Linked DNA regions of Homo sapiens: region 2 is linked to region 1. The links come from fine-mapping of genetic effects on gene expression. A gene starts in region 1. The other region holds a variant in brackets. All regions are shown on one strand. Distances are between the middles of the regions. Region 1 holds the start of TRIM17 (tripartite motif containing 17). Region 2 holds the start of LOC124904538 (a long non-coding RNA gene).

The links.
Region 2: its variant is fine-mapped to the expression of TRIM17 in esophagus muscle (GTEx, PIP 0.94).

What each region holds. Positions count from the first base shown.
Region 1 is chr1:228,414,509-228,418,895 of GRCh38, reverse strand. TRIM17 (tripartite motif containing 17) reads left to right here and starts at 2,035. Exons shown (of 7, transcript NM_016102.4): 1 at 2,035-2,357; 2 at 3,783-4,252. The coding sequence starts at 3,824. RefSeq lists a silencer at 2,467-2,576.
Region 2 is chr1:228,444,134-228,448,520 of GRCh38, reverse strand. LOC124904538 (a long non-coding RNA gene) reads left to right here and starts at 3,489. Exons shown (of 2, transcript XR_007066919.1): 1 at 3,489-4,387. The variant CGGGT/T (reference allele first, on the strand shown) is at 2,140.

The DNA.
Region 1 (4,387 bases):
AGTCAAGCTGGGAACTGCTTAGAGCAAACCTGCGTCCCATTCTATTCAAAGTCATATCTCTGCTCACTGAGATAAATGTATATCTGATTGCCTCTTTTGGAAAGGCTAATCAGAAACTCAAAAGAATGCAAACATTTGTCTCTTATCTACCTATGACCTGGAAGCCCCCTCCCCACTTCCAGTTGTCCCGCCTTTCTGGATGGAACCAATGTTCATCTTACATATATTGATCGATGTCTCATGTCTCCCTAAAATGTATAAAACCAAGCTGTGCTCGGACCACCTTGGGCACATGGCTGTGTCATGGGCGTGTGTCCTTAACTTTGGCAAAATAAACTTCCTAATTGACTTAAACTAGCCTCAGATATTCTGGGTTCACAAGGGTAATTCACTTAATCGGCCAGTGTGCGCAGCCAGCCCGCACCTGACAGCACACAGACCCCTTTGTGTGTGCGAGTGATGAGAGACCACAGAAGAAACACTCTACCGAGTGAGCCCAGGGAAAGCCAGCCATCTATGCCTGTGGCCAGCTGTCTACACCCGCACACCCAGGAGATTGCAGAATGGTGCCTCTTAGCCTTCAAGGCCCTGTTTTCCTGCCTGTCTGCACCCCCTGTGTGGGCCAAGCCTTAGTTTCTTCATCTGTCCTCTCTCTCCAATCCCAGGACTCTGACTCAGGGCACGCAGGCCTCTGGCTCCTGTTCCTGAAAGCAGGAGATGAACCCTCCATGTGAAAGGTGCATCCCTCTACTGGAGGATGAAGCGTGATGACTAGGCGTGGGGACTCAAGGCCAGGAGAAATGGCCACCAGTCAGGACCTGGGCAGGGCTGGGGGCGGCATTTTGGCTGAAACCGTAAGAGACTTTTAAACCAGAGCAACTCCATCTTGTATAGAGGCTGGGTAAAATAATTCTGAGACCTGCTGGGCTGCATTCCCCAGAGGTTAGACATTCCAAGTCACAGGATGGGATAGGAGGTTGGCACAAGATACACGTCATAAAGACCTTGCTGATGAAACAGTATGTGGTGAAGAGGCCAGCAAAATCCCACCAAAACCTAGATGGCGACCAGAATAACCTCTGGTTATCATGACTGCTCATTATATGCTAATTTTAATACGTTAGCATGCTATGAGATACCCTCACCAGTGCCACAACAGTTTACAGATGCCAAGACAAGGTCACAGTTACCCTATATGGTCTAAGAAGGGGAGGAGCCCTCAGTTTCTGGAATTGCCCTTCCTTTTCTGGGAAACTCATGAATACCCCACCCCTTATTTAGCATATAATCAGTAAATAGCCATAAAAATGGGCAACCTGTAGCCCTGGGGGCTGGTCTGCCCATGGAGTAGCCACTCTTTATTCCTTTACTTTCTTAATAAACTTGCTTTCACTTTACTCTATGGATTTGCCCCGAATTCTTTCTTGCCCAAGATCCAAAACCCTCTCTTGGGGTCTGGATCAGGACCTGTTTCTGGTAACAAAACCACCTGGGGTGTCGGCAAGACCCACCCCGTCCCGCCTGGTTCTAGGGGACCTGACCTGCCAGGTGGTCCCTCCAAACTGGTCCGCCCACAGGATTGGGACGCCCCTCCCTGTACCCTCAGCCTGATGCTGACTGCCAACCATGTGGGCAGACCTGGCGGCTGACTGGCTGCTCCTGGGGACCCCCTTCATAGCTTCTCAACAGGCACTCGCTCCTGCTGCCTCGCCCCCACCCCAGCCCACACAAACTCCTCTCCATCCCCTACCCCGACCAACTTAGCCCCTCACCTAACCCTCCAGCCTGGGGCTCGCGTGCCCTCCCGCAGCCCCAACCCCAGGTTGAGAAGCCTCTTCCAATCCCACTCCCCCCACCCTGACGCTCGCCTGCCCGCCCCTAGCCCCACCAGCTGTCCCCATTCCACTCCCCACCCCCAAGTAACCCCCCAACTCCCCACCCTCCACACTCCCTTAACCTCCCCTAAAAGTCCCACCCCAGGCCAACAAGACTCCTCCCTTCGCTGGGCTGTGGACCACATCCTCCCCACCGCCCAGTCAGCACCCGCTGCGCCTGTCCCCGGCTCGTCCAGAGCCTTCCACCCCCTGCCGCCTTCCTTCCCCAAGCCACCCCCAACCTCTCCTAAGAGGCGCCGCCCCAGTCCCGGCCGCCGAACACTCCCTCGCCCAGCATTCCCCTCCCCCGCCGCCCCCCAGCCCCCGCTGACGCCACAAAGTCCCTAGGCCTCCCGACCCCAGGTCCCCACGCCCCGGGCCGGGCCGCAGCCTCCTGGGCTTCGTGGGGGCAGACCCAGCCTTTCCCGGCAGCGAGCGCTCGGCCAGGTGCACTAGGCGCTGTGCGGGCCCCCCTTCCCCGCGGTGAGTAGCCCCCACCCCGCCGCCTAGGCTACCCTCCTGTGGCGCCTGGGCCACGACCTAAGCCTAACCCGGTCCTCCTCGCCCTCCAACGCCCGGCCTTCCCGCCTCCGCCGGCCGCCGCGTCCCTGGAGGGGCTAGCGCGCTTCAACAAGGTAACTCTACCGGGACCCTAGCGGACCAGAGCGGGAAGGACAGCCATCCCGGCAGCCAGAGCCAGAGCCCCAGGCCCGCTGCCGCTGTCCCTGCCCGGCTTCGGTCAGGGTGGGCTGGGTGCCTCCGTTAGGGCTCTTGGGGGGAGTCGGAGGGCTGGCGCCGGGTGGTTGGCGTGCAGAAAGCTCCGAGAAACTGGACGTGGGACAGAGCCGGGGAAGTCTGAGACCCCTAGACGCCCTCGCTTTAGGGGATGGCAGAACGGAAGGGGAGAATCGTGCTTGCAGTGTAGACGCGATTTTCAACTCCTTCTGCAACTCGGTCCCCATAGCAACCCCGTGGCGTAGGCGAAAGTCTGTAGATCTCCACTGCGTGGGGTCGCGAGTGTTGAGATTGCAGGGGGCATCTATGTGCATGCTTGTGTGCCTGTGCGTGTGTGCGCGCGTGTACCTGTGTGTACATGCATGTATGTTTACCGATATGTGCATCTGTGCCTGTGTGTGCTGTGTTTGTGGATCAGTGTTTCTGTGCGTACATGTTTGTATTTGTGTGGTGTGTATGCGTGGGTATGCGTGTGTGCACATGCACGTTTGTATACATACATGGGTATGTGTATGGGTGTTCGTCTGTGCGTACATGCACACGCGTGTTTTTTCTGAACCCCACCTCACTACCGAATGGAAGAGAGCTTTTTTCCTCTGATAGCCCATCCCTTCTTCCTTTGGTGTACGGGGTTTTGTTAAAGAAAAAATTCTGACATTTGAAAGGCTCTTTAGTCAGGCTACTTGCAATGGGAGAGTTGCGCCAGCAAAGACAGCTGGGGATGTATGGGGGAGTTGGAGTGGGGATCTGGGTGGGGTCAGTGGATGGAAAGTGATTAAGGGAAGGCTCCAAGGGTAGGGGCTTCTCCCTAAGCTGACCTAGCAGGCTTCTCCAGAAAGGCAGGTTGAAGGCCTAGCCGGCAACGGTCTGTCGGGGAGGAGGAGCTGATGAGATGTGGAGCTGGGGGTAGCCAGCAGCAGGCGGAAGTGGACGGGTAGGGTCCAGGCCCAGTGGAGAGGAGAGGCGGAGGGGCCTGCAGAGCATTGGTCAGGGAGGGTCTGTGTAGTTTCTGGGGAGGCATCTGTGTCTGTTGTTGACAAGGCTAAAAATGATGACTCTGGACTCTCTAACTGGACTGCAGTCCTAGCCCTCCTCTGTAAAGGGAGGCTGTACAGGACGGTTGCACACTGCCGGCGCCCAGATCATCGGGCTGCTCCCTCCAACTCTCTCCAGAGTCCCTCAAGCGGGAACCTGCCTCGTGTCTCCCAGGAGCCATGGAGGCTGTGGAACTCGCCAGAAAACTGCAGGAGGAAGCTACGTGCTCCATCTGTCTGGATTACTTCACAGACCCTGTGATGACCACCTGTGGCCACAACTTCTGCCGAGCCTGCATCCAGCTGAGCTGGGAAAAGGCGAGGGGCAAGAAGGGGAGGCGGAAGCGGAAGGGCTCCTTCCCCTGCCCCGAGTGCAGAGAGATGTCCCCGCAGAGGAACCTGCTGCCCAACCGGCTGCTGACCAAGGTGGCCGAGATGGCGCAGCAGCATCCTGGTCTGCAGAAGCAAGACCTGTGCCAGGAGCACCACGAGCCCCTCAAGCTTTTCTGCCAGAAGGACCAGAGCCCCATCTGTGTGGTGTGCAGGGAGTCCCGGGAGCACCGGCTGCACAGGGTGCTGCCCGCCGAGGAGGCAGTGCAGGGGTACAAGGTAGGCCACATCGGGGCCCAGGTCAAGGGGCCGGGGAGGAGGCATCCAGGGGGACAAGGTGACCCAGATCATGGGGGAGGGAGGAGGTGTCCAGGGACAAAGTGGCCCGAGTCAGGGGCTGGGGAGGAGGCATCC
Region 2 (4,387 bases), 30 kb before region 1:
CTTGGTACATGTCACGTGGTGAAATGATTACCACAGTCAAATCAATTAACACACACATCACCTCATGTGGTTACCTGTGTGTGTGTGCATGTGTCTGTGTGTGCGGTGACAACATGTAAGATCTACTCAGTAAATTTTATGTCCATGATATGTTATTAACCAGAGTCTCCATGCTGTGCTTCAGGTCTCCAGAACTACTTATCTTATAGCTGAAGCTTTGTACTCCTCCTCACCCAGCCCCTGACTTTTTTAGATTCCATATATAAGTTGGCTCATGCAGTATTATTTGTCTTTCTGTGCCTGGCTTATTTCACTTAGCATAATGTCCTCTGGGTTCATCCATGTTGTTGACATGGTTTCCTTCTTTTTTAGACCTGAATAATTTTCATTATTATAGTGTAGTATAGCATGTAACACTAATATCTATACCACGTTTTCTTTATTCATTCACTGATGGACATTTAGGTTGTTTCTGTATCTCAGCTATTATGAATAGTGCTGTAATTAACATGGGAGTGCAAGTATCTCTTTATGACAGTGATTTTATTTCCATTGGGCATACTCAGAAGTGAGATGGCTGGATCAACAAAATTAAAAGGCAACCTATGGATGGGTGAAAACATTTGCAAACCAAACATCTGGTAAGGGGTTAATACCCAAAATATATAAGAGCTCCTACAACTTATTAGCAAAAAACAAAACCAAAACAAGAACCAAATAACCTAACTTTAAAAATAGACAAAGGACCTAAATAGGCATTTCTCCCAAGAAGGCATACATATGGCCAACAGGCATATGAATAGGTGTTCAACATTACTAATCTAGGAGGGTCGGTAGGGTGGCTCATGCCTCTAATCCCAGAGCCTAAGGTGGGAGGATTGCTAGAGCCCAGGCTTTGGAGACCAGCCTGGGCAACATAGGAAGACTCCGTCTGTACAAAAAATTTTTAAAAATCAGCGGGGCGTGGTCGTTCCTGAGGTCCCATCTAGTCCAGAGGCTGAGGCGGGAGTATCCCTCGAGCCCGGGAAGTCTAGGTTGCAGTGAGCCGAGATTGCACCACTGCACTCCAGCCTGGGCCACAGAGGGAGACCCTGTCGCAAAAAATAAATAAATAAATAAAATTCAGGAAAATGCAAATCAGAATCAGAATGAAATGTCTCCGAACACCTGTTAGAATGGCTAATATCAAAAAGACAAGAGACAACAAGTGTTGGTCACGATGTGGAGAAAAGGGACCCTTCGCACGCTGTTGAGGGGAATGTAAACTGGTGCAGCCATCACGGAAAATAGGACGGAGGTTCCTCCAAAAACTCAAAACAAGGTCCAGTCTTTCTGAGGCCCCCTTCTGCTTGCCTGTGACCACCCTTCTTCCAACCCTCCAGTTCCAGGTCCCCTCTGCTGCCCTTAGACGCGGCGTCTTCGCACTCTGGGCCTTACCGCGGCTGCTCCTCCAGGTTTGCTCTCCAACTGCAGCCTTCCCTGTCCTACGCGACCACCGGCCTCCTGGCGCCCTCTGCCTATAGTGAACACCCCTCCAACACCGTGCCATCACCTCACGTTTACTCTCACCTCCTCCTCCACTAAATTGCAAGCTCCAGGGAGGCATGTTTTCATCTGATGCGTTCACCCCAAGTACTAACAGCTATGCCTGGCACATAGTAGATGCTAAATGGATATTTGATGAACTTAAAAAAAAAATTCAAAGGATTCCTTTCCTCTCTGGTCAATGGAAGACGGAGAAGGAATGAAATTGAACTTCAATAGCTTAACAAAGGGCGGGAGGGTGGTGTGTTGACCGCCCCCCCAACCCCCCAACGCTGGGCCCCAACCCACCCCGCCCCGCCCCCACGGGATGCTTTTCTACAAGGGTGAGAGGAGCTGACTCCGGTTTGGACTGGAAGAAAGTTTCCAAGAAAATCAAATTAGTGGCCCAAACACATACCCCTTCTCCGCCCCGCGCAGTCTCTGAGATGCGTCCCAGCAATTGCCCAGGGACTTGGAGGGAGCGGGCATTTTCAGGCTGCACAGAGGCCATCTGGGGAGAAGGTGTGCGGCTGTTTTGCTGAAATGTAAAAAGAGATGTCCTTTGGAGCCCGGGACGCCGTTTCCGGCTGGCTACCCGAGGTTGCGTGCAAGGGG[CGGGT/T]CCTTAGGCATGAAAATGACCCTCCCGGCCGCAACGGCGCACAGGCCCAGGGCCGCTGAGCCCCTCCAAGCCGGGATTCGTTTTGGAGACCTGCGCGATGGAGCGGACAGCGGGACTGGGGGGCGCCGCAGTGCAGGGTGTACAGCTGCAGAGAAGCCGGGGATACAGGGGTGCGGGGCGCAGGGATAACGGGCGCAGGGGACGGTCACGGGTGCTTTCTAGTGGGTTGTGCAGGCTCAGGTTCCCAGCGCTGGGTGGTTGCGACTCTGCATAAAACGCTAAGCTTTTGAGGCCCTTATTCAAGCTCGGGGACGTCTCCCAGTTGGTCAGTTCAAAACCTCTGGGCCAGGTTGCGTTGGTGGCAGATTCCGCCCGCTAAGTCTCCGCACGCTGCCGCGGGTCTGCTCCTCCCCCGGGGTCAGAACCTCTGACGCTCTCCTGCTTTTACACGCGTTAAGTCACTGGTTTCTTGCAGCATCACGTGTTCCCTAGATACATGGGCTGAGGCTTATTCTTCCTGAAAGTGAGGGTTTTTTCCTTTGGGCTTTCCAGAGCCAGCCCGCGTGGAGAGTGACGAGTGACAGGCGCCTTTGTTCCGGGCTTGCATGGGTGGGACGCGCCCCCTCCTCAGCACTCAGCCCGGCGAGCCTGGCCCTCCCGTCGCCCCTTCTTAAGTGCATTTGTCCCGGGCTCTCGATTTTGTTTACTCTTTCCTGCTTACACAGGTACACACACACACCCAGACCTAAACTTTATATAAACAGACATGAACTTAAAGAAACAAAATCCCCCTATGTGTCAACGCGCTCCTTTTTAACAAAATCAACAAAAATTCAACACAATGTTATTTCCATCCTTTTGTTGTCTTATTAGAAACGTGTATGTTAACTTTCCTCCTTTTATAAATGGGGCATGTTCTAATTAACCATTTGTATGGTTGTTTTTAGTGCTCAAATGGTCACATTGCAGCCCCGGGGAGGTATTTTCAAAACGCTGCTCTGTCATTTTAGGATCACCCTGATTGTTGGAAGCACCTTTGCTTTTGTTTTTGTTTTGTTTTTGTTTTGCTGAGACGGGGTCTAGCTCTGCCGCCTAATCAGGCTCACTGTGGCTTCAAAACTCCTGGCTCAAGCAATCCTCCCGCCTCAGCCTCCCAAGTAGCTGGTACTACAGGTGAGTACCACAGCGCCTAATTGGTTTTTTGTTTTGTGTGTGTGTGCGTGTTTTTGGTTTTTTTTGTTTGTTTGTTTTTGTTTTTGTTTTGTTTTGTTTTGTAGGCAGGTTCTCCCTATATTGCCCAGGATGGCCTTGAACTCTAACCTCGGCCTCCCAAAGTGCTGGGATTACAGGTGTGAGCCACTGGCACCCGGCTCATCTTTGCTTTCTGACAGCAAAAAGTTATTTCAGACCTATCATGGGTGTTTTGTTTTGTTTTGAATTTTTGTTTTTTTGACTCCAGATATGGACTTAACTGCACTCCAAGGAGTTTATGTTGCTCTTCATGAAAATTAGTATTATAGACAAAATTGAAGCTGGGAATCAGCTACTTTTGTCTCTCATTTTCACTGTTCTCTTTTTTTTTTAGATGGAGTCTCACCCTGTCCCCCAGGCTGGAGTGCAATGGTGCGATCTCGGCTCACTGCAACCTCTGCCTCCTGGGTTCAAGCGATTCTCCTGCCTCAGCCTCCCAAGTAGCTGGGAGTACAGGCGCTGCGTCACCATGCCTGGCTAATTTTTTGTATCTTTAGTAGAGATGGGGTTTCACCATGTTGGCCGGGCTGGTCTCGAATCCCTGACCTTGTGATCTGCCCGCCTTGGCCTCCCAAAGTGCTGGGATTACAGGCATGAGCCACCACGCCCGGCCACTGTTCTCTTTTTTTAATGATGGTGTAGCTGTCTACCCTGTGGAGATATATTGATCTTCAAAATCACCGTGATAGTACAGTTATTATGGAAAACATTATTAAATTCAAAATAGAATTCCCAAACGATATAGCAACCCCACTGCTGGGGATATATCTAAAGGAAATGAAATCCGTATCCAGAAGAGAGATCTGCACCATGTTCACTGCAGCACCATTTACAATAACCAAGACATGGAGTTAACCTAAGTATCCATTGTCGGATGAATGAGTAAAGAAAATATGGTACATATGTACAATGAAATACTATTCCGGCCTTAAAACATAATGAAATTCCCTCATTTGTGACAACAGGGGTGAAATGAGAACATTACGTTAAGTG